Homo sapiens: one gene and its partner. The protein of the gene in region 1 purifies or fractionates together with the protein of each later gene. This does not show direct contact. Each region holds a gene or a part of one and is shown in the gene's direction. Other genes may lie near its edges. The genes, in order: CER1 and NGLY1.

What was found.
Region 2: the proteins of CER1 (region 1) and NGLY1 purify together in Homo sapiens (co-immunoprecipitation; 2 studies listed by BioGRID and IntAct, with this or other methods). This does not show direct contact.

The regions. Positions count from the first base shown.
Region 1 is NC_000009.12:14,714,649-14,730,625, reverse strand, and holds CER1 (cerberus precursor), read left to right. Parts: upstream 1-7,892; 5' UTR 7,893-7,953; coding exon 7,954-8,460; intron 8,461-10,239; coding exon 10,240-10,536; 3' UTR 10,537-10,902; downstream 10,903-15,977. UniProt on the Homo sapiens protein: Cytokine that may play a role in anterior neural induction and somite formation during embryogenesis in part through a BMP-inhibitory mechanism. Can regulate Nodal signaling during gastrulation as well as the formation and patterning of the primitive streak.
Region 2 is NC_000003.12:25,726,130-25,741,365, reverse strand, and holds part of NGLY1 (peptide-N(4)-(N-acetyl-beta-glucosaminyl)asparagine amidase), read left to right. Parts: intron 1-1,566; coding exon 1,567-1,789; intron 1,790-3,910; coding exon 3,911-4,032; intron 4,033-4,965; coding exon of another isoform or gene 4,966-5,057; intron 5,058-5,216; coding exon 5,217-5,362; intron 5,363-7,383; coding exon 7,384-7,494; intron 7,495-8,882; coding exon 8,883-9,047; intron 9,048-12,047; coding exon 12,048-12,233; intron 12,234-15,236. UniProt on the Homo sapiens protein: Specifically deglycosylates the denatured form of N-linked glycoproteins in the cytoplasm and assists their proteasome-mediated degradation. Cleaves the beta-aspartyl-glucosamine (GlcNAc) of the glycan and the amide side chain of Asn, converting Asn to Asp.

The DNA.
Region 1 (15,977 bases):
TTCCCCCAAGCTGCCTGCATTGTATAAGCAGAAACTGGCAAGGTGGCCAGTGGGGGAACAGTTTTCAGACAGATGCCCCCTACACTCATTTCTGTTGGTGATACACCACCCCCATGCTCCAACTGGAGTAAAACAATTTACAAGCTGCATAAAGTTACCCAACAGACATATAGTCCTCTGGCATGAATTACCTTTTTTAGGAGTGTGATTATCCTTCAGGGGAGACATGCCTGGGAACTGTGGCTGGTGTGACAATGTTCTAAGGCCTGCTCTGAGACTGTGGCCAGGCTGGGAAATGAAGAATGGTTTAGTCCCAGATTCCATGGAAATTTGATTTTAAAATAGAATCTAAACACAGAGAATTAAGTATAAGTTATCCAGGACAAAGCGATACTTCTTAGAAAGTAAAACACAACAAGGGCCTATGTCAGAAGTTTCCTTTCGCATTTTTATTGGACTCAGTATGTCAAAACAAACATCCATTCACCTCCTAAATGTAGACTGAGGGACCAGGAATGGAAAAGAAACAGAAAAATGCATTAAACAAAATCCCTTTTCTCAAAGTTGCTGACAATGTAGTCTCCAGCAAACATAATCCCTGCCCTTGAGGATCCTCTCTTCCTTGTTAGAAAGATATGCATGTACCCAAATTAAGACAAGCCCGAGGAATCACCGAATAGCCGAATCAAGAAGGAACTTGGCTTTTCAGAGTCCCAAATACATCTCAGTGACATGGAGGAGATGTCTCCCTTGTAAATCCAGAAGTGGATGTGAGAAAGTAGAGGTTGGATTGGGAGAAAGCTTGCCAATATTTGACTGGAAAACGCAGAAGACAACACTGAAGTACAGAACCTGAAAACTTCTATGGAATCAAGAAAATTTGAAATGATCAAACATTATATAAAAGCATCCAGTGGAGTGCAAAAGTTTGACCATTCAGGGTAGACTATGGAGTAAAGTGGTTGGAAAGGATGTGATTCCAACAGCAGTGTGGAAAGGAGAAACGAACTGGTGTGGTTTGATGGTCAAATGTAAGGAGACTCACTTATCTGATGGGTTCTATCTTTCTCTGCAGAAAAAGGGGTCATCTATCAAAAACGAGGAAAGAGGCAGAGCAGTCAAAGGTTTTAGGTAATTAGAGAAGATTTTCACTAACCCACATGGAAAATGAAAAGTGAGTTGAATAGAGGAATGAGAAGGATTGGTGAGCAGAGTTGAGGGTTCCGTTGAGACAGAAGGAAATTTGTATAGAATCCATTTTTGCCCATTTTGTCTGTGTCTCTAAAAGCACTCCCTATCCCAGGCGTGGGCCCAGTTAAGATGAACAGCTGGGTGTTTTCAGGGTTGGACTTTTTGTTGTTGTTGTTGTTTTAGAAAGACTCTCGCCCTGTCGCACAGGCTGGAGTGCAGTGGCACAATCTCGGCTCACTGCAGCCTCAGCCTCCTGGGCTCAAGCGATTCTCATGCCTCACCCTCCCAAGTGGCCAGGATTACAGGCGGGCTCCACTGTGCCTGGCTAATTTTTGTATTTTTAGTAGAGACAGGGTTTCACCATGTTGGCCAGGCTGGTCTCGAAGTCCTGAACTCAGGTGATCCGCCTCCCTCGGTCTCCCAAAGTGCTGGGATGACAGGCGTGAGTCACCACGTCCGGGCCCAGTGTTGGACTTTTATTAGATGTGTGTGAGAGAATAAAAAAGGGACTAGGGAAAATATTGCAAAAGTTTGAAGTGATGGACCATGGAATTAAAGTGGGATAGGGAAGAAAATGAAGACAAAGAATTTATATATGTTAATCAATTAATTACATTATTCATTTATTATTACATGAATATTTTAGGGCATTTACTATGTGAAAGGCTGTGCTACAGCCTGAGCTGATGACTAAAAAGACCCCACTTTTATGGACTTTAAAATCTGGGCCGGGCGCGGTGGCTCACGCCTGTGATCCCAGCACTTTGGGAGGCCAAGACGGGTAGATCACAAGGTCAGGAGATCAAGACCATCCTGGCTAACACGGTGCAACCTCGTCTCTACTAAAAATACAAAAAAATTAGCCGGGCGTGGTGGCAGGCGCCTGTAGTCCCAACTACTCGGGAGGCTGAGGCAGGCGAATGGCGTGAATCCTGGAGGCGGAGCTTGCAGTGAGCCGAGATTGCACCGCTGCACTCCAGCCTGGGCAACAGAGCGAGACTCTGTCTCAAAAAAAAAAAAAAAAAAATCTTAAGTGGAGGCAGATGTTAAATGTTCAGTCAAAAATTATTTCATGACAAAGGTGGTAGTACTATGATAGAGATAAAGTACGGGACAGATGCTGTAGGAACTGAAACAACACAATATTGTTATGAGAGAGTGGAATGTGAATTCACAGTTTAGAGGTAGAGCTGTTCTTGATAGTAACAGGGGTCAGAATGTAATCGGGGTAGGGAGGCCAATTGGCATGAGAGCAGTCAGATTTCAGCCAGGGTATCGAATGGGACTTCCATGGGATACTGATGAAATGCTAATGGTCAAACCCAACCACATGGACACTGAAGTCACCCAGGATGATAGTAAGATTCAGGGTGAAAAGAAGGACCGTGGACTAAATGAGGAAGACAGGGCAAGTAATATTGCCTCTACAGACATTCAGGGACATAAAGTTAAGTGCCTGATGCCATAGAGTTTACAAGCTGTAATGCAGTTCGAGGAATCAGATTTAGTTTTTTTGGCCTCAAGTCCAGAGATAGTTCCACTGACATTACTTAGCTCTGAGATCAGCTTTCTACAGAAGGAAAAACAGACAAGGTAAATTTTAAAGATGAGGAAGAAGGAGCAGGACAGAGATGTTGCATCAGTGACTGCATCCTGAACTGGCTCTAAGTATAGGCACAGGCATTGGAGATGGATGGACAGGTAGGAAGGTGGGGCACATGGTGAGGGACAGCTCAGGCTGCCTTGGCCTAATTCTCAGATTTGCAGGAGCCCTCTCTGCAGTCTTGGTAGGGAGATGATTAGACACATGTAGATATTGTCCATGACTTGTGCACAGTAGTAGATACATCTTCAGATGCAAAAAACAAAATACCCAGAATACAGAAAACTATTTCTCAATGGTGTTGGAGGGTGTTTTGAACAGAGGGCAGTGAGATCACCGAAACTACAAACAGAATAATCTAATCTTTAAAAGACAATCTAACCATCAGTGCCTTGAAGTGGAAATGGGGATTTTTTTGTTGGCAGTTACACCATTTGATATTTGTCCTTTTCCACTGGTCACACATTTTGGTATCTTTGGGTGACAGTTTTAAAAGATTGAATAAAGAAACTGATAATAATGGTTCTCTCCATGGCAAGGACAGGCAGCCTGGGGTGGAGTCAGAGGAAGATCAACCTTTCGTTGTGCATTTTTTTGTGTGTTATTTGAATTTTGTTACTATGCGTATTTATTACCTACTCAAAAATAAAAGAAATGTACTGCACCATGTCTACAGTGCTTCCTTGAATTCAACAAATATTTATTATTGAATAAAATTAGCACAAATAAAGCATACAGTTCACTGCATCTTTGGGATTTGGCTCTACTTGAAAGTCCCTGATTAGTACAGGAATGATGCCTGCCTAAATTTTGTTTCTTTCTTTCTTTCTTTTTTTTTTTTTGAGATGAAGTCTCCCTTTGTCGCCCAGGCTAGAGTGCAGTGGCATGATCTTGGCTCACTGCAACCTCCACTTCCCAAGTTCAAGCAATTCTCCTGCCTCAGGCTCCAAAGCAGCTGGGATTACAGGCACCAGCCACCATGCCCAGCTAATTTTTGTATTTTTAGTGGAGACAGGATTTCACCATGTTAGCCAGGCTGGTCTCGAACTCTGGACCTCAGGTGATCTGCCCACCTTCGCCTCCCAAAGTGCTGGGATTACAGGCATGAGCCACCATGCCTGGCCTAAATTTTCCCTGTAAAACTTATTTTGAATATACTAGGCTGTCCCTATAGATTGCAAAATCCACTAGACCTGAAACTGAACAAAGACACTCTCAACACTTATCTCCAGTTCCTAGAACAGAGCTGGCACTCAGGTGTGCGCTGTAAGAATGAAAGAATTAGTCCAGTTAAAGGAGCAGCTTCAGGGAATGGGGCTCTTCCTCACGTGTCTTTTCCATGGAAAGGGGAGGAGGGAGTGTACATTTTGAATAATTAAGTAAATTGTTTATTTAAAAGTTTAAGGGGAAATCATATATCCTAATTTTCCCTTTTCCTTGTTCCTTGGAAAATAAGAAAAAAGGTCCTGTTTTCTTCTGAGTTAAAAAAAAAATAATCTAACCTGCCATGACATGATTGCTATTCTGTATTTTGAAAAGAGAGGTAGTGATGAGGCAGTGGCATGCTCCCCAGTCAGATTTCTCTCCTGAATCCTTCAACCCAAATGTCCTTTTCCAGCTCTCAGTTGTCCTGTTTAACTGTAATGTCCACCCCCCACCTCAACACTGCCTCTCACCTTTTGTTGATTTAAGATAGGTTTTTAGGGAAGAACTTAGTCTCTCTGTTCGCCCTTGGAGAGCACTGGGCTTCTTTTTAACTGTCTTCTGAGAGTCTGTAAGAGGGACAGAAAATGTAGCTGTTGCTGTCCTCTCATAGGCACACTGGGGAGGTCTGAAAAGGAGACAAACCACCTCAACGTGTCTTGAGCGGCTGGGTCTCATGGGCCTCTTTTCTTGTCCATTTTATAAAAGTGTCACCAGCATATGAAAACATTTTTTATTTAAGTATCTTCTCGAGGTCTTTAGAGTTCCTGAAGACATCTTAGTGCCTAAGAAACCCAAGTCAAGTTGAAAACAGTCAGATTCTGCTGAAAGCCTGAACTGTAAATGGAAATGAATGGATTCTGGGATTGGCCCCTCTGGTTCTCATGCATGTCTAGGGTTGGCCCAGGAAGTGGACTTAGGAGGCTTGGGCTCACTCACATGAACTCAGGCTCACCCTTCACTGTGGCATTTGGTACTAAGTGCACTAATAATTGGCGATGCTGTCTCCTCATGAAAGCTTCCTACTGGGTCTGGAGACCTCCTGCAGACCTACTTCCATTTCCATTTGGTTCATCCAAATTGGGAGGTAACTAGATGCCTGTATCAACTGAAGACCAACAGAGGCAGCATATTTTTGCTGAAAGCTACAAAATCTTCACTTATTTTCTTAAGAGATTATAATGTATTACATTATACATATATTACATGTTATACATACATAATTATACACACATAATTATACACACACAGTGTATCAATGGCTTTAGAATTGGTGAATGGACACGATAGTGAAAGGTGATAGTCATTGCCTTTAGCTGAAAAAGGCAGAGGTTGGAGATAGGCTTGTTTCATAGTTCTCATCACAGAAGGCTTGGCTTTGCTAGATTTACTTTTCACGGATAGTATTTACTAATGGGAGTAGGGAGAATATTTCAAGATATTTGCACATTTTCTCAAAAGAAGTGACAGAACAGCAAAAGGATATTCTCTGTGAGTGATTTTTAAATGGCACTTATAAGCCCCAAATTAGGATCAGAGGAAGGGAAGTTTAGGACTAAAGGAAAGTGAAAAATGGATAACTGACATCCCTATAGATGATTTTATACAATAAAGTTAGATGATGCATAAGAAATCCCACTAGACTATCTAACCTACTTGAGGGCAGGGACAAAGTTTTACTCATTTTTCAATTATCTACCAGTATCTAATATGATTCTTAACACACAAAGTGAGTCTTCTACACATTGCAGTTCAACAGGAATTATCTCAACTGTATCTCATGTTCAGTAATTCCAGAGCCAAGCAAACTGAGACCCGAGATAGAATTTCTGAGATTGTCTTTAGTTTTGGGAAATAGTAGATACTCTGATTGATAACAATGGAATTTCAGTTACTGAAAAGTAACAGTTAAAAGGATTCAGGAAAGGTATCACAGCTGGCTTCCACACCATATTATACCAGGAGGCCTAGTGACTAGCTCTGGAAAGCGTATAGCATTGGATGGCTGAGGGGAATTAAGAAATTCAAGTAGCAGTCAATTAAAAAAAAAAAGATGTTGACATAGCATGGTGGCTCACGCCTGTAATCCCAGCACTTTGGGAGGCAGAGGCAAGATGGTGGCTCAAGGCTAAGAGTTTCAGAGCAGCTTGGGCAACAGAGTGAGGCTCTGTTTCAACAACAACACAAAATTTTAAATAGCCAGGTGTGGTAGTGTGCCTGTAGTCCCAGCTACTCAGGAGGCTTGCTTGAGCCTAGGAGTTTGAGGTTACAGAGTGCTATGATTGCACCACTGCACTCCAGACTGGGCAACAGAGCAGAACCCTTTTCCTAAAATAAAAAAAAACAATGGCAAATACACATGCTTATTTATTATATATCAACAGCACCTTTCATTAATACTAGCACACGTTCCATAGATATTTGGTACAAGTACAATATATCTCCACTCATGGCATTCTGGTAAAGTGATGGTCCATGTTAAAAATAGCTCATTATCATGGGTAAAGGGACTTACTTAAGGCTTTATTTCATAGAAATCAGGCATGGCTATCAAGAAGAACAGAAATGCCTGGAAAACAGACTCCAGTGGGTCACTTCTTGGAAAGAAAGTTTAATCAGTATTGACAAAAAAGGGGGAACATGTTCCAGGACTATTTGTGTTATTGAAAGCAAGGAATATAGTGATTGAATTAAAAGGGGAGAAATAAAAGCAGATATTGCATTGCTTCCCAGTGGAAATACTGTTTGAATCATGTGGTAGGCTGATCGGACTCTATTCTGGGGTTTCAGTTTTCTGGACGTGTTTCTTTTTCGTATCCTAGGCTGATTCATGATAGTTTTGAATGATAGTTATTTTTCAATTTTTCCTTTGATCCCCGAAGACTCTTATTTGTGTCAATCTTTATTTAGCCTGGCCATCAATTAGTGTAAAACAAGGGGAGATGATGTGGATTCAATAAGGTAAGAAACTGACTAGCCAGCGTCACACACAAAGTTATCAAACCTGGTTCTTAGAATCCACGTTCTCATGTCTGGCTCTTTGTTCAAAGGGAAAAAAAAATCAATAGGATGGCTGGAGGGAGACATTTCCCTATCCTCATTGAAGACTGATGAGCTGTCAGTCTATTACGTGGTATCCTGTTGAGGAACATGTGAACAATTGGAAGAGTTTATCTGATGACTGACCAGTTGTGAAATTTAGCACCCATTAATTGATTCTTAATGTGAGAGGATTAACTTGGGAATTGTGAGTTTCTACGTGTGGAAAGGAAAACATATTCCCTTTACTCAGTTACTGTGCAAAAATCAATAACCCCAATTTGCATGTAAGTAAGAAACAATATGTCCCTTGCTCAAAAAAATTAACATCCTTCTAGCTCTTCCTTTCTTCTCCTTACAACTTTGATATACTTCTTCGTGTGTGTGTGTGTGTGTGTGTGTGTGTGTGTGTGTGTGTGTGTGTGAATAGCCTTCCTAAAGGCCTGGGCTTTTTCTAAATGTATGCCTTTAATTTTTATCCAAAAACTTCTCTTACAGCAACATGTCTTGTCTATTCTATTCCAGCACAAGGCAGATGCACAGCAAATGTGAGCTGACTCTAGTCCTTCTTCTGAAAACAGCCATGGGAAATTTAGGCAAAGAATGTGTTGTCTTTGCTAATACTGCTCTTTAAGCCCCAGACATAGCTAAACTCTTAGCTAATTACCCCCTGGGTCCCAGGCTTTCACTGGGGCCTTTTAAAATACACAAAACCAAAGTGACGGCAGGAGGCCATTAGCACTACATAATTCAAGCAAACAATAAATGTGTTTATTCTGCCTGGCTACTGACCACCTGCCTTCCCATCCCGCCAGGCAGGTATCTATATATACGATTTCCTTTTTCCCAGTCCTGCAGAGAATGAGCCTCTCCTTTGGGCCTCATCATTTACAAAAGAAGCTTGGGCCCCTGACAGCATGCATCTCCTCTTATTTCAGCTGCTGGTACTCCTGCCTCTAGGAAAGACCACACGGCACCAGGATGGCCGCCAGAATCAGAGTTCTCTTTCCCCCGTACTCCTGCCAAGGAATCAAAGAGAGCTTCCCACAGGCAACCATGAGGAAGCTGAGGAGAAGCCAGATCTGTTTGTCGCAGTGCCACACCTTGTAGCCACCAGCCCTGCAGGGGAAGGCCAGAGGCAGAGAGAGAAGATGCTGTCCAGATTTGGCAGGTTCTGGAAGAAGCCTGAGAGAGAAATGCATCCATCCAGGGACTCAGATAGTGAGCCCTTCCCACCTGGGACCCAGTCCCTCATCCAGCCGATAGATGGAATGAAAATGGAGAAATCTCCTCTTCGGGAAGAAGCCAAGAAATTCTGGCACCACTTCATGTTCAGAAAAACTCCGGCTTCTCAGGGGGTCATCTTGCCCATCAAAAGCCATGAAGTACATTGGGAGACCTGCAGGACAGTGCCCTTCAGCCAGGTATGTGTTCTGGGGGGAGAGCAGGTAAGAGTTTGCAGGTGGTAGTGGACAGCTGGGATGGATGGAGAGTAGGGGAAAAGGCTGTCAGGAGCCTGACTCTAGCTTAACTACAGATTTGGTCCTTGGGCATTCATCATAGGATTTGGCAAAGATTAAGTTTCCTTCTGGCCTTTCCATTTTTTCTTGGCATTGTGGAAATGCTGCAAGAATGATATGATGATACTGTCAATATCAGTAATCATTCATTCACACTGAAGACACAGAGCTCTGTTTTATTTATTTATTTTTGCATTGGAGGTGATCTACTCAGAGATATAAGTCAGACTGTACCCTCAGTTAGGAAACTGAGAATTTAGAGTAATCACCAGAACTCCTCTGTAGCTATCTTTCTGCACTCTATTAATATGTGGATGAGCAGGTCAACTCCATTTGTTGATAAAGTGGGGTGCATTGGACTCCTTCCCAAATACTCTCATATCCATTTACGATGGTCTTAATCCCCATAGTCCATACTTAATTACTTTATAGGTTTATGAGGGACTTCTTTAATAGCTTGCTAAAGCTATCCCACAACCTCAAAGTACGTTGAGGTTCTCAGGCAAAAGTTGTCATATCATTTCTAGTATTATGATAGCAAAAAAGTGATTTTCTTTCACTTATTTTCTCATATGAGCTTTTTAAAAAATCAATCTTGATGTGAGATCATATCTCCTCCCCTTAGAAGTACCTTTCTCCTGATTCATGTTGTGTTGGCTGATTTGTAGTTATTATGATCAATTCCATGCTATTAAGACAAAGGGACATCCTACTGTCTACTTCCTCTGGCAATATCTACATTCCAAATGTTAAATTAAAATTGAGAACTTGCATTAGGTCCTTAAACATGAAGATATTGAACCAAAAACATGCAGGGTAGAGTAAAATTTTATAGTCGAGTAATGCTACCCAATTAAGCAAGCAATAGAATAGGGCAATTGACTGTTCAAGGCAGTTAAGTATTCTGCCTGAAAAGGCAAGGATATGTAGCAATGGCAAGTCAATTATCAAATAATAATGACTACTCTGTTGGCCATGTGCAATTAGAAAATTACCCCTAAGAATCAGGCAATCAAATTTCTTTTGAAATTCTTCTTTTGAATTCTATTGCTAATTAAATTAAAACTAAGATGTTTGACTCTTACATATTTTGAAAGGCATATAAAGCTAGGTGCTTGGAGTTATGAGAGGTAAAGGTGATGTAATATACAATGATTTGCAGGCATATGCATTGTAACTCTGCTTGCATACAACTTCATAGACTTGAATGTACTACAGGTCTTGCAGAATAGGATAGAATTAAACCTAGAATGTTCTGATCTATTCTACGATCAATGTAACAAATATGTATTGGGAGCCTACTATGCACAAAGCCCTGTGAGGAATAAAAAAGTAAGGCACATTACTTATGTAAGATAATTACCATTAGAATTTTTCAATCGCTCACATCCAATTAGACAAAATTGCTTAAGGTTTTGCACGAATAATGTAGAGTAAAATATTTTTTATGTTAACTTAGGGATTCCCTAAAGGCTGTTTAATAATTTACTCAATAAAGAAAATTTAATTGAGGTGGTTCTGTGCCCTTATAGATACCATCACTTGCATATTGCAAATTGTATCCAAAATTGGAAAGCTTTGAAATTTTTAAATTATCCTCAGATTTACAGTCCATAGCTTCTGCATTATGTGTGTTAAAGAAATAATTCAAAATAACGTAATGGAAATGTGTTTGCTTTTTAGACTATAACCCACGAAGGCTGTGAAAAAGTAGTTGTTCAGAACAACCTTTGCTTTGGGAAATGCGGGTCTGTTCATTTTCCTGGAGCCGCGCAGCACTCCCATACCTCCTGCTCTCACTGTTTGCCTGCCAAGTTCACCACGATGCACTTGCCACTGAACTGCACTGAACTTTCCTCCGTGATCAAGGTGGTGATGCTGGTGGAGGAGTGCCAGTGCAAGGTGAAGACGGAGCATGAAGATGGACACATCCTACATGCTGGCTCCCAGGATTCCTTTATCCCAGGAGTTTCAGCTTGAAGAGCTATCCCACTATTACCTTTGAAAAGCAAAACCACAACAGCAAAGATGCTGATTATTCAGTCTGAAAATGTTAAGTGGGTACATAACATTTTCAGGGAAAGGTGACTTGAAACGTAGTTTTAAATTAGAACGATAGAGGAAATGATATTAGTCTAGTTATTGGTACACGTTTGAGACCTTGTCTCAGCTCTGCCACTAACTAGCCGTAGAATGTTAAGTTGTAAAACCTTTCTCCATCTAAAGATTTTCATCTATAAATGACGGACCCGACCTAGATGATTGCTAAAATCCTTTCCACTACTAATATTCCGTGATGCATTTTCTCCAAGTTTGGGTAAAAGCCCTCCATCTAAAGAAGGAAAAGAAATAAGCGAGACCATAAAAATGGGCTTCTTTAATGTGTGTCAAATCACCAGCAAGCAAAGAAGCAAGATAGAGAGGGAGGAAGGAAGGAAGGAAGGAAGGAAAGAAGGAAGGAAGGAAGGAAGGAAGGAAGGAAGGAAGGAAGGAAGGAAGGAAGGAAGGCAGGCAGGCAGGCAGGCAGGCAGGCAGGCAGGCACGCAGGCAGGCAGGGAGGCAGGCTACGTGAAATATTTGTAGGAAAGATTCTCATACTTATAGTTACTTTTGCAACCCAAACAGTGTTTTACTTGACTTCTATCTGATGATTAAGTCTTTCCACAGATGTAAGGAGTAACTTGCTTGGTTGCCTCCTTTTTAACAATACTCCTCATATAAAGTACTTAATGTCAGGTCTCTGACTTTGAAGAAGGAACAGTGATGTTAATTTTAGTAGTTTATATAGGGAAGAGGAACAATCACTGGTAGCCAAACAAGTACCTATATTATGAGGAAGGAAAAATACATGACTACTACCAGGTTTAGAGATCAATCCAGAGATGCTAATGAAAGTAACCCCCAAAAATTCAATCTTCAGGCAAAATTATTTACTCACATGCATTTTGAATTAGGTAGTAAGGTTTCTATGTTTGAATGACTGTTTTTTGCTATTTAATAAAACTTTGTATTATAAATTTTATTCAGCAAGTACCAAAATTACAGGTTCTGAAAATATTCTGGATATTTTAATGCATTAAATTTTAGTATATGAAGCATTCTGAAAAATGTTCTTATATTTTTCCCTTACTTGTTTTGTCTCATAATTTAAAGGTACTATCAGGAGATAACCTAGCTGGAAGCATTTCTGGAATGTCTTCATAGACTTATGACACTGGACCAAGGGTTTCTTCTGATCTGTAAGCAGCCTTCTGTTTAAGTCTCTCAATCACCTCTCTCCTGTCTGTGTTAATTTTTACACATATATGGTACAGAACTGCCTTTTCCCAGCCAGACTGCTTTTTCTATTAAGTTATTCAAATTTTTGTTCCTAAAAATTATTTTAATAATTAGGTTTCTTTTACTTTTAGTGCACACACATACACACATTTCCCAGAATAACTGTTTTTTTTAAATAAATCAATTTATATTTTAATTCTATTCCTCTTTAATCACACCATCTAACATGACATTCCAAAGAAGCAAAGGCATTTATATTTAGTGTATATTTTGTAACACATCAACATGAATGTGAGTTACACAGATGCACACATGGCATTTACATTGGAATATATTATCATACCCTTTGGTGGTCAAAGGCAACCTAGCTGGCCAAGATATGCTCATAAGGATAAAATTGTTAAGCATTAATGATATCTCAGCTGGTCAATATATTTTGGTGCCAAAAGCTATCAAACAGCTGTCATGATTGCAATCGCCTAACCCTGATTATGAAAACCTATCTCTGCCAATTGGACTGTCCTTCTCCTCCTTACATGCTTGTAAATCCGTTTCATCCATCCTTGCAAATAGACTCTCAAGCCCAAACCCCAAACAATGATCTGTTTTATTCAAATTTTGGTCTGCGCTTCCCTTGCATGTAAATTCTAGATGGGATAGTTGATAGTGGTATCAAACCTTACATTTATAGAATAATTGCATGAAATTCAACAAAATTGCTCATATTCAATCATTTTTACTTACAAAAAAGGCAATTTACAAAGGTTGAACATAATATGTAAGACTGTAAGAAACCAAGAGGAAAAACACAAATATTGAACATTTATTAAGTGCCAGATACTGTGCTGTCTTTTACAAGAAGTTAACAATTTAATCCTCACAAAAACTATATAAAGTAGGTTATCACTGTATTTTATGGGTAAGAAAAGCAAGCCTTTAAAAGTTTCAGAATTTGCCTAAGAGCATTTGGAGAATATTTTCTATTTTGGATTAAAATATTTGCTCATTTGTTCTTTGTCAGTTTATATTGAACTCTTCCAGGTCTCTTGCCTATAGGCTTCAAAGCAAATTTCTTTTTACCACTTACCTAGCTCTCCTATCTGAAGGATTTTGATGTTATATCTCAAAAGAGAAATCATCTCTAGGTCAGGTTATCGGCCAAATATTTCCTTGACTCCGTTGGTCCTCATGGCACACCTCTTCATAAATCCTGGTCTCATTTTCCTCTCATATAAAATAAGGCTGGTAATAATTACCTCAAAATTATTGTGATGATCAAGTGTACATAACAACACTTCAGAGAACTTTAGATCCTGTAAAACTACAAGGGATTAATTTATTCTTTTCCGTTCAGACCTTCTATTTTTTAAATTTGTTTTGAGAAATTGAAAACACACGGAAAAGCGCAAATAATAATATAACACTGAAATTCATATAAACGAAATAAATAGTTACTATTTTGTCATCTTTTGCTTCTAGTCTTCTTTTAAATAAGCCATTTCAGATATAAGTAAAGTTCCTTCTGACCACAATACTGAGTCTTATTCCCTAAGCTTTTGCCTACAAAACACCACACCACTAAAAATTCCTGCTTATACTTTCAATTCCCTTCTATATTTTTGCTAATTTATATATACTTCCATAAACAATATGTAGTATTATTTTTTATATGCACTACTTTAGTCAGCATGTATTTATTTGTCCATCAACTATGTACGAGATACAGCTCTAGGTGCCATGAATACAAAAAGGGAACAAGTCAGACAAGATCACTGCTCCTATAGAGCTTACATTCTATTGGGGGAGATATGTAATTTGAAAATCAATCAATTCATCAATCAATCAATTCAAAAAGAAAAATATCAGATGGCTATAAGTGGTATGCAAATAATTAAAATATGCTAGAGATTGATTAGATTAAGTGGTCTCTGAGACGGTGACATTAAAGCTATGTGTTTTGAATTATGTACATGATATTCTCTATTAATTGTTCTATAATGGCATTTTTCACCACACATAATTCTTGTTTGTTTTTACAAAGTTTTGAGAGGTTTTTTTCCCATCTATATTTTATCTCCATTCTAGAAATTAAGTATTCCTTACAGAGAGTAGCTAACCTAGCTTTGATTTTCTCAATCTGCGCAATTTCTTTGACCTGTCAGTTTAATTCCTAAATAAGACTTTTATTTATCCTCTGAATTTTTACAGATAATTTAATTTATTCTATGCAAGACACTGTGCTAAGAACCTTGGGATATTCCAAGATAAATAAGACACATTTCCTGCCACGCTGGAGCTTACAATGTAGTAGCAGAGATAATGTATGCAAATTTTAAGGCAATGATAATAGTACATTTATAAGGACTACTAATTATTGAGTTCTTACTATGTGCTCAGATGCTTTATATTTGTTATCTCCTAGAAGTGGATATTTTCTACTCATTTTTTTTGACAAGGAGAATGAGAGTTGGAGGGGTTCATTCATTCAGTCCACAAATAGTTATGAATGTCTATGATGAGCCTGGTCACTGTGCTGGGGACAAAGAATATGAATAAATGAGTAGAGGATTATCTAAATATAATCCCTGACTTTAAGAATCCTACTGTCCAGGAACAAGTAACTGCATGTTTTTGCTACTTGTTTACTCTTCCATATATTCTAGAATGATGATCTCTCCATCACACCCTACCCCCAGTCTCAAACACCACTATCCCAGTGAAGCCTTCTTTAACCCTCAGACAAGTTTGGGTTCACGTCTAACATGATTTCATGACACTGAAACCTTTGTTTTATAGCACTCATATCAGCTTGTAATTATATCTTTATTCTGGCCATCATTAATTAAATTATAAGGTCCATGAAAACAGGTATCATATTGCAGGAGGTTTCTTTCAGGATTGTAATCAGTGTCTGGAAGGGGCCAGCACACAGTAGGTACTCAATAAATATTTTTTGTCTGTATGAAAGAAACAATATCAATAGGTATCATCTACTGAGGTTATGTCATGTGTCAGGCACTGTGCCAAACACTTTCTATACATCATTTTATTTAATCCTCATGAAACCTTATGAGGAATATTTATAGATAAAGATGCTAAGGCTCATATAAATAAACTTTCCAAAGTATCACTGTTAGGGAATAGGAGAAGCTGAATGACTCCAAAGCCTAAGCTCTTTCTTACTAAGTTATATTGTCTCAAGATAGCAAATATGGAAATATATATATAATATAAATATTTATGTATACATATGTATGCAAATATACGCACATATAAATATAGACACGCATATAGATACATACAAATCAAAGTTAAAGACCTAATACTAATCCATCCCCTCTCTGATTCCCAGAGCCCATTATTCATGCCTGTCTTACGGCACCTATAACAGTGAGGATGTTTCCAACTCCAGTAGCAGGAAATACAGCTCGGAATGTATTAAATTAAGAAGGAATGTACTATGTCTCTAACAAGAAGTCTGGAAGGCAGCCAGTTCCTTAGGTGGTCAAGTCAGCAGCTCTACCATTCCATCAAGGACTCGGGTTCCTTTCATCTTTCTGCTCTCTTACTTTCAGTGTGTCTTCTACAAGCTAAAACTCCTCTCAGTCACAACATGGCTACTGCAGTTCCAGGCATCATGCTTCACTATTCACACACGAATGTCTCTCCCACTTCCATCCCTTTAAAAAAGCTAAATAAAATCAGTTATGTCTAGGATAATTGAGCAGTGGAACAAAATCAAGGAATAAAGAGCAAATGGCTGTTAGGCCACAGCTGTTGCCACTTTTTTATTAATTAATTAAGTATTATTATTATTTTTATTATTATTTGAGATGGAGTCTCACTCCGTCTCCCAGTCTGGAGTGCAGTGGCACAATCTCGGCGCACTGCAACCTCCACCTCCTGGGTTCAAGTGATTCTGCCACCTCAGCCTCCCAAGTAGCTGGGATTACAGGGGTGCGCCACCATGCCTGGTTAATTTTTGTATTTTTAGTAGAGACAGTGTTTCACCATGTTGGCCAGGCTGCTCTCGAACTCCTGACCTCAAGTGATCCGTCCACCTTAGCCTCCCAAAGTGCTGGGATCACAAGCGTGAGGAACTGCACTCGGCCCACTTTTTAATTTATCATTATTTATTTACC
Region 2 (15,236 bases), on another chromosome or scaffold:
ACTGTGCATTTGCTTAGAAATCTGTCTTTCAGAATTCTTTTGTTTCATTGATCTGTTTATTCTTCACTAATACCACATTGTTTTAAATATTAGAGTTTTATAATATGTCTTGATACACGGTAGGCAAATTTACCTTATGATTCTTGCTCAAAGTTGTGTTGGCTATTTTGTGCATTTTCTCTTTCACATGGGATTTTGTAGTTAGCTTGTCAATTTTTTTTTTTTTTTTTTTTTTAATGAGACAGAGTTTCGCTCTGTCACTCAGGCTGGAGTGCAATGGCATGATCTTGGCTCACTGCAACCTCTGCATCCCAGGTTCAGGTGATTCTCCCGCCTCAGCCTCCCAAGTAGCTGGGATCACAGGCACCTACCACCAAACCCAGAAAATTTTTGTAGTTTTTAGTAGAGACGAAGTTTCACCATGTTGGCCAGGCTGGTCTCGAACTCCTGACCTCAGATGATCTGCCTACCTTGGCCTCCCAAAGTGCTGGGATTAGAGCTGTGAGCCGCCACACCTGGCTAGCTTGTCAAATTTTATGAAAAAATATTTTATAATTTTAATTGGGATTATATTAAATTATAGATTAATTTGTGGAAGGTTATCAGCTTTAGAAATATTGAGTTTTCCCTCCAGGAACATAAATATTTCTGGCCTTTTTACATTCTCTGTAGTTTTTTTTTCTGTAGTTTTTTATTTTGAAATACATCAAACATAAATACAAGAACAAAGTATAATATATCATATACCTATGACCAACATCAAGCTTTATTAGATTTTATCATTATGCTATATATGTCCTTCATATTTATGTTTTATTATCACTCTGTTTTAATCATAAAACATTAAAGATAGAGATGAGAACCCCCTATATATGTTTTTAAGATTGATTTTCCCTCTCCTTCCCTTCTTGCCAGAGATACCATGGTCTTGAATATGAACAAGAGAGATCTGTTTATGGAAAAGTGGGTATATTATCTGTCATGTTATAACTTACTAGGGTTGTTATATATACTAGAGATATGGTTGTGTTTTTATGTGTTTGGGGATGAGTATCCATGGATGGATTATATTGTACAGTTGAAGCCCTAATAGAAAGGCTAATAGGATGATTTTTTAAATGTCTGGAATTCTGTGATTTCTGCCTTTTGTGATTGTTTCATGTTTACTTGTGTATATACCTGATAACAAATTCAATGTTTCCCATTTTTAAATGTTTTTCAAAATCAAATTTATTTTTCTACCTCCCTTGTACTTCAGGATCAATTCCTAACTGACTATAGTTCCCTAAGAGGTCATTGTGTTCAGCTCACTTGTTAATGCATAATGTCAGTTAGAGGATATAAAATGGTAAATGTTCTACTGTTTTTAATGTGCAGTTATACTTGTCATTGTATTTCAGCCTAGTGCCTAATAAATGACAGTTTCTTCTTGCCTCTTATTAGTGAAAACCTTAAAATCATCTTATGTTTTCATATTTTTCAGGTTCGTATTTGAGAATAAATATGTTTGGATAGTTTAAATTTTGTCAGTTTTAGCTCTTACTTGGTCCTCCCTTAATTTCTCAGGTATCAATATAAGTGATGAGGATTTTCTTTTGCTGGAGCTTTTGCACTGGTTTAAGGAAGAATTTTTTCACTGGGTGAATAACGTTTTGTGCAGCAAATGTGGTGGACAGACTAGGTCTAGAGATAGATCATTACTGCCCAGTGATGATGAGCTGAAGTGGGGTGCAAAGGAAGTGGAAGATCATTACTGTGATGCCTGCCAGTTCAGCAATCGATTCCCAAGGTGGGTGCCCTGGATGGTAAAATCAGAATAATCTCTTAATGAAATAGTTAGAAGAGAGTTTTTACTAAATGAACTTTTTAATATTTAATTATCAGAAATATATTCCTCTAAAATACCGGTGAGCAAACCGTGGCTGGCAGGCTAAATCCAGCCGACATCCTGTTTTTGTAAGTAAAGTTTTATTAGAACATAACCATGCTGATTTATTTGCTTATGGTCTGTTTTTATGCTGCAACAAGCAGAGTTGAATAATGGTGACAGAAATGATATGACCCACAAAGTCTGAAATATTCACCATCTGTCTTTTATAGGAAATTTGTTGACTCTTGTTCTAAAGTATAACTTGAGTATAGTCATAACATGTTTAATGCTATAAATCTTGTATTACTTTTTTAATTCCTAATTTTTAACTGTCTGATAGCTAACAATACTTATAATAATGCTGAGGTATACTTTTACCTTCCATATTATCATCGGATGATTATTTTAAACACATAATTGTATTCACTCTCACAATAATCAGCATTATTATTATCAGTCTTATTAGCAGAAGTTTGTTTTAGTTAGGTGCTTCCCCTGCCCAACCTAACCTACTCCTCATATCTCTAAATTTTAAACTAAGGACATTTTAAATTTTAAATTAATTTCCATTCTTTAATTTATAAGCCTGTTTTCAGATTTTCTGAATTGGCAATGTTTATAAAGTCTGGTTGTATTATCAGTCAAGGAAAGATACCACGTTTTAAAAATATCTAATTTTTTTTAGCTTAGGACATAGTTTCTAATCATGTGCTTGTTTTAACCTCTAGCTCTTCTCTATATGGGGAGGCTGAGGCAGGAGGATTGCTTGAACCTGGGAGGCAGAGGTTGCAGTGATCCAAGATTGTGCCACTGCGCTCCAGCCTGGGCGACAGAGTGAGACTTGAGACTTTGTCTCAAAAAAAAAAAAAATTTAATTACCTAAGTTATAAATTCATTTATTTAGCTTAAGAAATGCTTGGTTAAGCATTTGCTTAACAGACTTGTCATCGCAGAGCCCATTCATTTATGCCACTGTTTCCTTTCCTTCCAAAGCACGTGGCTGACCTCTCTGCTCAGCTGCAGCACTTTTCCTGCTCAGCTCTATCAGTTCAAAACCCATCTCAACACAAAATGCAAAATTTAGTGTTCTTGAATTGTCTGGTAATTTTATAATTGGAGTAACTTCTGAAAAGAATGTTACAAATAGATCCCAAAAAACAACTTCCAAATTAGCAGGCACCTTTAAATACTTCAAAAGAGTAAAATTTTAATCAAAATGATTATTAGAAAGAAAGATAATATTTTAGATAAAATTGAATTAAACTAAGCTAAAATTTTTGTTGAGTAATTTGTTAAAGTTGTTTACCTTTTAAATACAGTGAGCTAGCTATACCACTTTAGTGCTAATGCTTTAGGCAAATTGCCTAGAGAATTTGCTTCTCCAAATCTTACATTATTCAAAACACAGATCAAATAAAAGCTCTCCTCACCAGCCACTTTCTGACCTGTTGTATTGTTTGATCACTAATCTGACCTGTTGTATTGTTTGATCACATTCTGCCATATATTTAAATTATTTGTGTTCATCCCTTTCCTCAGGATTGTGAACACCTTGAAAGCAGTACTACCGTTTAATTATTTTTCACCAAATGTTCTAACATTGTGCCTCATATATTCTAGATTTCTAAATAAATATTTAAAAACAAATTAAAGGCCGGGCGCAGTGGCTCACACCTGTAATCTCAGCACTTTGGGAGGCTGAGGCGGGCGAATCACGAGGTCAGGAGATCGAGACCATCCTGGCTAACATGGTGAAACCCCGTCTCTACTGAAAATACAAACAAAATTAGCCAGACCTGGTGGCATGCACCTGTAGTCACAGATACTCTGGAGGCTGAGGCAGGAGAATCACTTGAACCTGGGAGGCGGAGGTTGCAGTGAGCCGAGATTGCGCCACTGCACTCCAGCCTGGGTGACAGAGCAAGACTCCGTCTCAAAAAAAAAAAAAAAATTAAACATTTCTGTTTAGCATAGAGGTAATGTAAATTCTCTTAAAAATCTTGATTTTGATAATTAAGGTTTTTTTTCTTTTTAAACCAGATATAATAACCCTGAGAAACTTTTGGAAACAAGATGTGGACGGTGTGGCGAGTGGGCCAATTGTTTTACACTGTGCTGCCGAGCTGTAGGGTTTGAAGCTCGCTATGTTTGGGATTACACAGGTACAGAATGTGGAATGAGCAGAGGGTAGTAGGGCTTTGCAGGCTTGCAGGTTTGGGTTTACATTCTGAGCCCATGATTCTCTGTTACTTTTTGGCCTTGTCAGTCTGACCTTCCATTTGCCTTGTGTAAAACAGTAATAATACCAACCTTCCAGGTTTTTTGAAGGGATCACAAGAGTTTTGTAAAACACCTAGCACTGTGCCTGGTGCTTTGCACTATAAATATTCCTTTTTTTCCCCTTTATTTTTTTATTGATGCATAATAGATGTACATATTTGGGGGATACTTGTAATGCATTTATATAAATTCTACAGAGCAAATCAGTATTATTGGGATGTCTGAGATCTTAAATATTTGTCTTTATGCTGGAAACATTTGAATTACTCTCTTCTAGCTATTATGAAATATGCAGTGGATTATTGTAAACTGTAAACACCCTATTGATCTATCAAACACTAGGTCTTGTTTCTTTTATTAGCAATTTACCGTGGCATTTATAGTGATGCTGTTTATATATGGATAAAAACATGTAATAATGTACCATAGAAATCTTCATTGCTATAGGGATTACTGTAAAAAATTTAGTAAACTATAAACTTAAAGCACAGTATACAGAAATAATAAAAGTCATGTGATATTTGTGTTGTCCCTATTTAGAAATAACTTGTGTGGTCTACATGTTAAAAAGTTGTTTTCCTTGTGTTTCCATTTTCTAAAGAATTAAATGAAACCTTCCATTAATAGTTAGTGTTCTCTTAAAATCAAATATAAAGCATGTATTGACCAGAGATTCTATTAGACTTCCTGCTGGTTCTGGGCCTTAAAGTCCAGAGAGAGAGACTGTAGTTTCAAAAGTGGCATTAACTCCTTCATGATAGTAAACTCAGGATGATATTTTTTATGCTGCTCTTTAATATGTCTACCTTCTTAAGAGTTACAGCGCACATTAAGCCTAAAACTGACCACGTTAAAGGAGATTGGAAAAACATTTTTAAGGATTTCAAAGAGACAGAAATTAATACAGGTATTCTAAAATCCTGTGTGCCACAAAATGCACTTATTAACTGAAATTCAGAATATTATGCATTACTTTATGATTCTTAGGAGTTTGTGTATAGTTATTGAAAGTCATTCTGATTTCATTGTCTTTTTTCCATTGCTCTCTTTTCTCTTACTTGAGTAGACCATGTCTGGACAGAAGTCTATTCTCCTTCTCAGCAGCGGTGGCTGCACTGTGATGCATGTGAAGATGTCTGTGACAAGCCACTCCTTTATGAAATAGGATGGGGCAAGAAGCTTTCCTATGTCATAGCATTTTCAAAAGATGAGGTAGAGCATAAAAGAAAAAAACTTTTTTCCAAAAGTAAAATATATTTTTTTCTTTTATGACAGCTTCATGAATGTATAATTAACATACAATAACCTGCATATATTTAAATTGTACAGTTTGATAAGTTTTATTTGTATACACTGAAATCATCACTGCAAATCAGTATTCATTGTATGGATGTGCCATAGTTTACCATTTCACCTGTTGATGGCTATTTGGGTAGTTCCCAGTTTTTTTCACAATTTCAAATTAAGCTGCCATGAACACTCAGGCACACAAGTCTTTATATGGGCATATGCTGCCTTTTCTCTTTGCTTAATGCCTAGGAGTAGAATGGCTGCATTATATGGTAGATATACATACAACTTTTTAAGAAACCACTAAACTATTTTCCAACGTGGTTGTGCCATTTTACATTTTCGCAAGCAGTATGTAAGTTTCCAGTTTCTCCATGTCCTTGCTAACATTTAGTATGATCTGACTTTTTAATTTTATCCCCTTTAATAGGTGTGTAGTGGCATTTCATTATGGTTTTTATTTGTACTTCCCTAATGACAAATAATACTGAGCATCTTTTTATGTGTTTGCTTACCATCCATATGTCCCCTTTGCTTATTTTTTTTAATTGGGTATTGTGTTTTCTTACTGTTTGGTTTTGAGAGTTCTTTATATATTCTTATATAAGTCCATTATCAGATATGTGCTTTGCAAAGATTTTTCTCCCTATCTGTAGTTTGTCTTTTTATGCTCTTAATGATTTTTGAAGAGAAGAAACTGGCGTTCAGTTTACCAATTGGTTGTTTTATGGATTGTGCTTTTTGATGTTATATTTAAGAAATTTTGCCTAGCCCTTGGTCACAATGATTTTCTCCTATGTTTTGTTTTAGAAGTTTTTTTTGGTTTTATGCTTATGTCTGCAATCCATTTTGAGTTAATTTTTTTATATGATCCAAGGTGTATGAAGTTTTTTTTTACATATGGATAATGAATTGTTCTAGCACCATTTATTGAAAAGATTATTTTTTCTCCATTGAATTGTCTTTCCACTTGTATCAAAAATCAGTTCTGTAATATAAATCTAATACAATAAAAATGGATAAAATTTTTATTTGTTGAATTTTGTGGAATCAGCTTTGCAGATAAATTTTAAAAAGGTAATGTTTTGAAATTTTCACTTTTTTATCATAGCGTTTCTGGTTAAACTATCAACTGTTTAGGAATGAATAAGTGACGTATTCTCTTCCGTTTATTTTATAGGCTTTTACGTTTTATTTTATTTTATTTTAATTTTTCGAGACAGTCTCACCCTCTTGCCCAGGCTGGAGTGCAGTTGCATGATCCCAGCTCACTGCAACCTCTGCCTCCCAAGTTCAAGCGATTCTCCTGCCTCAGCCTCCTGAGTAACTGGGATTACAAGCACATGCCACCACACCTGGCTAATTTTTTTTGTTTGTTTTTTTTCAGTAGAGACGGGGTTTCACCATGTTGGCCAGGCTGGTCTCCAACTCCTGACCTCAGGTGATCTGCTCACCTCAGCCTCCCAAAGTGCTGAGATTACAGGCATGAGCCACTGCACCAGGCCCCATGACTTTTAAATTTTAAACAAAGGATAGTATTCTAAAAATTGCATTTAAGGCTGGGCGTGGTGGCTCATGCTTATAATCCCAGCACTTTGGGAGGCCAAGGTGGGTGGATCACCTGAGGTCAGGAGTTCGAGACCAGCCTAGCCAACATGGTGAAACCCCATCTCTACTTAAAACAATACAAAAATCAGCCAGGCGTGATGGTGCATGCCTATAGTCCCAGCTACTCAGGAGGCTGAGATACGAGAATCTCTTGACCCTGGGAAGTGAGACTGCAGTGAGCTGAGATCACGCCACTGCACTCTAGCCTGGACAACAGAGCGAGACTTCGTCTCCAAAAAAATGCATTTAAAAATTACATACATTCTAGGTATTTAGTAAGTAAAGGTTGATGGTTGTAATCTTGTTAAGTATTTGTATTCTGTTATTTGTTTCAGGTAGTTGATGTCACTTGGCGATATTCCTGCAAACATGAAGAGGTGATTGCCAGAAGAACTAAGGTTAAAGAAGCATTACTTCGAGACACTATTAATGGGCTTAATAAGCAGGTATGGTGTGGCTATCTTTTTTGAAAGAACAGTTGACATTTTTTATGTAATCGAGAATAGCCGTTTATTAGCCTATTGAAATTCTTAAAGTAGTAGCATTGTTTTATAAACAAGAATATTTTAATATTCTTTTTGAATATTAAAGAATAAAAATATTCTTTTTGTTCATTGAAAATTTTGCGGACTCATTTTAAATATTATGAGTTATTTTGGATTAAACTGTCTCATTTCAAAGTTCTTTGAAACAAAATTTCAGTATTGGTAGTACCTGACAAAAAATGTGTTGTCTTATTTATCAGTGTAACTGTGCCTTGGATATGACACAGACTCATATTTATGTATTATGTATGTACATACACACACACACACACACACACACACACACACACACACACACACACACACGTCCATGTGAGGAAATTTCTGAAGCAAGGCACAGGAAGTTATTAACAATGACTACTTCTGAGAGGAGGAACTGGAGTTCCAAGATGAAAGGTTCAATTTTTGTTTTATACCCCTTTGATAGTATTGAAATTTTTAACTCTATACATGTGGGTTTTTTTCATAAATTAAAAAATAAGCAGTGAATTTTGCTGTAGCAGGCAGTTAGAACAGGGCAGAGCACATTAATCCAATCAGTGATAATGATTCCAGGTGAGGTTTCAGTCTATTTTGAATCTGCACTTACTCCTGATGTGTAGCCCTTCGGAGATCTCTACCTGAAAACCTGGATTATTTGCTAGATCCCCTTGCATTAGAACACTCTGACCCTCAGTTTATTTTTACCCCAGCACTGTGATTCTGCTAAAAATTCTGCTTTGATTTCCAGCACTTTAGTCACTATTTTGTCCTTGGCTTCTCAGCCTCTTCTCATGCCACTTAATAATTGACAAATGACTGGAAGGGAAAAGAGGTGCAGTATGTGCCCTTCACCTCAATTCTTTTCTTCTCTTGGAATCTTGACTTCTCAAGTTCTGGCTGCCTTTACAGCTTTCTGTTGCACTCAAACAGGTGTTTATATGTGAGTGTTCTGTTTGTGTGTTTCCACTAGCTTTTCTAGCTTTTCTCAGTAAGACATTCTGACACAAGCCAGTCTATCATATCCAGAAACAGAAGTTGCTACCTTCATTATAAATAAATCTAGGACAGTAGAGCTCATGGAGAGTTGGAAATAGGTGTTAAATGATTTCCCAACATAAAATTTATAAAATTATTTAAGTTTTCCACAGTGTCCTTTTTATTTTCTGAATAATATATGTTTGAAAATAAAATTCAGTACTTGTTTCAAGACCTCTTAAAATGCAAGTGTTTTAAGTATATTCTTGCTTAGAGATGGACCTATACATTCCCCTAATCTTAACAACTTTTTTAAAAAACATGAATTACAGAGGCAACTGTTTTTGTCAGAAAACAGAAGGAAAGAACTTCTCCAGAGGATAATTGTGGAGCTTGTTGAATTTATATCTCCCAAAACCCCTAAACCTGGAGAACTTGGGGGAAGAATATCTGGGTCAGTGGCTTGGAGAGTAGCCCGAGGTGAAATGGGTCTACAGGTATTTAATTCATTCTAGCATGATGATCCTTTTACTTTCCTGCTTCATATACTATGCTCTTCCTATACTATCCTCCAACTGCATTGACTATGACCTTTCAGTTAACTTGAGAGTAATTATTTTAAAATGCAAACATTTGAAGAGAACCAGTAATTGATTTACATAGCATTATCGTGTAAGAGTTAGCAAAGCATTTTTAAAATGGGACTTAAAATTTTTTTTACCTTATGTAAATTTTTAGTGCAGTGTAACTTTTACTGAAGAATATACAGGAAAATGCACAAATTATAAATGTACAGCTTAATGAATGTTTACAAATTTAACACCCATGTAATCGCCAACCAGAATAAGAAATAGATCACTGGAACCGTAGAAACAAGCGTGAGTTTCTTTCCCCACTGCCTTACACCCTCGAAAGTAATCATTATTCTGGCTTCTAACATCATATATTAGTTTTGCCTGTTATTGTGCTTTATAAAATGGAATCATATAGCATGTACTGTTTTGTATATAGCTTGTTTTGTGTAACTTTGTGTCAGTGAGATACATGTTGCAACGTGTATGGTATGTTCTCATTGCTGTATAATTTATTGTATGAATGTAATTTTTCACTGTTGATGGCTATTTGGGTTATTTCTAGTTTTGGCTGATATAAATGGTGCTGCTCTGAACATTTATATTCACGTTTTCAGTGAATATGTTTAGGCATTTTGTTGGATGTATACCTAGGAGTGGAATTGCTAGGTAATAGAGTATGAGTATATTCAGCTTTAGTACATATTGCCAAACAGTTTTTCAAAATGGTTATGCCAGCTTATACTCTCACCAGCAGTATATGAAGTTTTTCGACATCTTTGTGTACACTTGGTATTGTCTATCTTTTCATTTTAGCAGTTCTGGTGGCGTATAGTAGTATCGTGATTTTAATTTGCATTTTGGTGATGACTAATTATGGTGAATGCCTGTTCTTTAAACTTTTGGATATCCTCATTCTCTTTTGTGAAGTGCTTATTTAGGTCTTTTAAAATGAGATTCTAATGCATTTAAAAGAATGCTGTTTTACGTTTTTCCTCTCCAGATGAAAACTTTATGGAGTGGAGAAAATACAGAATTTGGGGAATTCAGCTGATGAAAGTGTTTATTTCTTGGTATATGCTTGCATATATCTGATATTGGCTAGAAATTGTTGGTGGCATGATTACTGTTATATTAAAATTTATTTTAAGATACCACATGATTAATCTTCCAAAATTAAATAACAATGGAAATATAATTTCCATAGGTAGGTCCTAAAGTTAAGGGACTAGGTAAAAATCAGTGTGCTAGGCTTTGTAACAGGCATTAGGGCAGTATAATAGACTGTCCTTTGCCCTTAGGGAGCTAAAGTTGAGTCACTGGAGAGCATTTAATAAAATGTTTAGGAAATATGCAATGAAAAATGCTTGAAAGAAAAATAACTCATCACAATATCAGTATCAAGCAGTTCCAAACAAATTAAAGTTGTATTTATCTACTTTTTCTAAATTTGCCATTGTTACAGTTCATTTCTCTAGTAACAGAATATGTTTTAAAGGAGTGAATTATCACTAATAAATTTTATGTTTGCTTTTTAATTTATCCCATCGTCTGTAGCGGGCAGTTAAAAGTGTTGGTTCAGCCATAGGATTACAAGATCCAAATTCAACAAATAATTCAAATCACTGCCAATGCAGTGTGTTACAAGTATAAATCTAAATACAGCCAGTTAAAAAGAGCTAATTTAATTCGCAGCTGTGTTCAATTTAAAACATGGATATTATTTAGGTCTTCATTTCTTTTTATGCATGGGTGTGCTATCTCTTGCATGGCATGGAAGTTGATTAACTTTAAAAATATGAATTGGGTTGCATACCACATTGTTTTCCCTTTTGAAATTTTTTTTAAGTTTCTTAATTGCTGGAGACCATTTTAGGGCCATGGATTTAAAAAGAAATCATTTTTTCCTTTAGAAATGGATGTTTGTTTTAAAAGTAAATAGAAAAACATTAATCCTAAATACTTTTGGAATTAATCTTGCAATCAATTGGAAACAGAAGAAACATTGGTACTATCATTTCCAGAAAGAAAAGTTTTATTTTAATCTTAGAATTAAAATATTTTATAAAATATTAATGTTATTTTGGACTAGAATGCAAAGATTGCCTGGGATTTTAAGGTTAAAATACAAGCTTTTGTAATAATTTTACACATGCAGAAGACTGTTTCATGCTATACCTCTCAGCTGCTCTCCTAGCTTAGGGAACTAGGAAAGGACACTGAGGAAATGGTTGAGGACTCAGGATGAGAAAGAATCCAGTATGTGGAGAGTAGAAAACAGCATCCTAGACAAAGTAAGCAGCATGTGTCAAAGCCGTGAGGCAAAATGAGCTGGACCTTTTTGAGGAACTAAAGGAAAAGTAATGTGATGTGAGTGTAGAAATGAAAGGGAAGAGTAACAGAAGATCTGGCTGGAGAAGCAAGCAGGGTGAACCATCACATAAGGCCCTGGTAGCCGTGGTAAAGAGCTTGGAGTTTAAGTCACTGAAGTGAGTTAAGCAGGAAAGTGACATATCCTAGTTTACATTTTTTGAAAAGTCATTTTCATTGCTATGTGGAGCATGGATAGGAGAGGTAAGAGTTGAAAGCTGGGAGTCAGCTTCAGGAGACAATTGTAGAAGTCCAAGTAGGGGGATAGTGGTGGTGGTAGAAAAGAATAAAAATTAATGAATTCATTGAATGCAAAATCACAAAAATATAAGTCAGAGCTCATACTTCTTGTTTTTCTCTCTAGTAATGTTTAGAGTTATAATAACATCATACTGATTATATTTAATTTATAAAATAATTTCCAAATTTTCCAATGGCACTAATTTTTTCTTTTCAATTTTGAAGGATTCTCTTACCACTCTGCTTAGTAATTTCTCTTTTTTCTTTTTTACATCTTTCATAATGTTGAAAAACTAATTCTGCTTTCTTTTTAAGAGAAAAGAAACCTTGTTTATTCCCTGTGAAAATGAGAAGATTTCTAAACAGCTCCACCTTTGTTACAATATTGTGAAAGATCGTTATGTTCGAGTTTCAAATAACAATCAAACCATTTCTGGATGGGAGAATGGCGTGTGGAAAATGGAATCTATATTCAGAAAAGTTGAAACAGACTGGCACATGGTAACTTAATGCATAAAACCATTTAAAACTTTTGTCATTGTTTAAACAAATATAGATTGGCTTCATTTTTCAGTTGTGTAAAATATGAAAACTGATATATCAAACTTATTTTCAGTAATCCTATAACCTGGAAAAGAAAATTCTGTCCCCAATATGTAATCAAAAGTCCACTAGAAATTCTTGCATTTATATCAAGGAAGTATCTGTTTTCATCAAAGAGGATGAATTTAATTCTTTCATGGGAAAAAATAATCAAATGTATGATCAATCCATATGACTGATTTTTGCATGAACATATATACATATATATTCTATTTGATACTGTATATATAAATACATTATATTGTGAATTAATTCCTTCACAGATGTGTATTGATTGCCCATTAAATACAGGCTATTTAGGGAGTATAATAGATTTAGTTCAAAGTTTCAGAAAGCTAAACATCTAACAGGCATTCACTTCAAAGAATGTGGATGATTGAGCAGCAATATTGGTTATTTCTTCTCTGTATCTTAAAAAAATAATTAAGTAGAGGTTAGGACTATAGCAGTTCATTTATACCAAGTTGCATATTATCGTCACATGCTATCAGTAACAAATAAGAGGCTTTGCTTTAAAACTGCCTGCTCCTTAGAAACACACCAAAATAAACTTAAAGCTATTCACATGACCTCAGTAGATCTGATCATATTCTTGATAGATTTTCATAGGAATTAATTAACTTATAGGAAGCTTTTAAAGTTAATTTACCAAGATACTTGAGTGGGAACTTGTTCACTTGTAAAATATATTGGATAGATTAAAAAAGTGAGTCACATATAAACAGCTGCTAGTGTTTATGAGCATCTGTTACATGCTGTCACTGTACTAGGCATTAATCAAATTACCAAAAACATACAGAGATAAGGTCTCTGCTTTTCTCTTTTTCAATCATAAGTTTTTGTTCAAAAACTTATCTTGCTGCTTAAACATAGAAATACTCCATTTATATCACATTGTCTAATACTAAAAAAGTTGAGGTATTTTTGTATTAGTAACTTACAGGATTATTCTAAATTTTGGAATTTTCTTCTTTAGCTAAAGAAATGCATAAAAATAGAGATAAAATTTAAAATTTCGAGATACCTGTAATTAGTTGTACAGTTGATGAGAGAGGATGAACATCTTCTAGAAGACTATCCTTAGCCTAAGAATTTCTCTGAACAGAAAGCAAGATAGAATAAAAGGGTTTTTTATCGAATGACTAGTCTATACTTGCTAAAATGGAGAAAAATCATGTGTTTCCTCCTAACCAGCAATGTTAGTAAAGTAGTAATGATGGGGAAAATAGTGATGTGTTACAGAAGATGTGATATGCCAAGAAACAGAACTACTGTATGGAGTATTTCTTCTTTGTCTTATACACTCATTTGTTCATCAGCAAACTTGTACTGTTGTGCCAGGCATTATTCTCAGCTACGTAAACAAAAAGATGATTCCTGACCTCACGATCTAAAAGGGGAAGCCAAAGCATAAACCGCCATCTTAACCATGATGCAGAGTGCTATAATAAGGATATCAACACATTGCTATGGAAACAGTGAGGTGGGAGTAATTAGCTTTGGCTGTAGGAGTTGGGCAAAGCTCCACTGAGCAGACGACATTTGAGCTGGACACTGGAGGTTGAGTAGGTGTTTATCAGGCAAGGAAACAAAAAGGCATGGAGTACGTGGCGTATTTCAAGATCTCCAAATAGAACATTTTAGCCAGAGAGGGGCTATAGTGTGAGAAAGATTTAAATAATGTAAATGATAGACAAAGGCCATTAAATAGAAAACACACCCCTATTCAAGTAAAGCTTATGCCTTGATATACTTTTATGAAGGGTACCATTTTTTTTAAGTTGAGTGAATTTCTTTCTAGCTACATGTATTTAGTATCAAATGAAGAAAAATACTAGAATCTTTACTTGTAGAGAGTGATAACTCGGAAGTAACAATTGTCGTTATAACTTAAGTATTCCATCTAAATCAGTATTTCTGGTTCTGTACTAGCATGCCCCCAGTTAGGGATTTTCTAGCTCTGTTGAATAGTAAACCTATTTCTCACTACCGTTTTTCTCAGTAATCTCCAACCAGGTATCATGACAGATCACATGCAGCCTGCTTTCAGAGTTTTAGAACAGATTCTTTACCTCTCAAAGAGGTATCCTCCCAGGAGCACAAAGATTAAAATTTGCTATTTAGCAAATAACATTGTTCAGTAATGTCTGAATTGAAAAGCATATAAAAACTAAATCAAGAAGACCAGTACGCTTTTTGGGAGGCAAGTGATAACACCTTGATAAAAGCAGTATTAATAGCTTCCTAACTAATCTCCCTCTGTCCTAATCCTTTCAAAGCTGTGATCCATGCTCTCGCTAAAGAAACATTTACAAAAACTTAATCCTTAACTGAGTGCTCTTAGAGTAAGACATAGCTCCACGTCTTTTCCAAATCTGGTCCTTGCCTTCTTCTCTGGCTTTGCCTTGCACTGTGCTACCCCTTGCTCTCTGCATTGCAGATATATTGTCCCTTCTCCCTTCTTCACAGAACCTCCTATACTTCTCTTTTTTGATTAATTTATTCTTAACCTTACCACTTGGCCCAAGCCTCACTCCCTCAGGTCCCAGCAAATTGAATCCATTTCCCTCTTTATAGATTCATTGTACCATATACCTCTCTTTCATGACATGTATTCAACAAATAGAAATGAAAATAAATTATTTGTCTCTCTCTAATAATGTTTACATTAGATTGTAAACAATTCTTAGGGAGAGACCTTGTCTTTTTCTACTCACTTTTGTACTCTCAGTATTCATATATCTGGCATAGTACCCGATACATAGTAAGTGTTTAGTAAAGATTGGTGAATGTAAAAATGTACGTGGCATAAATTCTGCATCACCCTAGGGCTATGTAGAGCACTGTAAGAACCTCACTTTGTTGAGTGTCCTTTGGATGGTCTTAGATACTTTTTGGTTT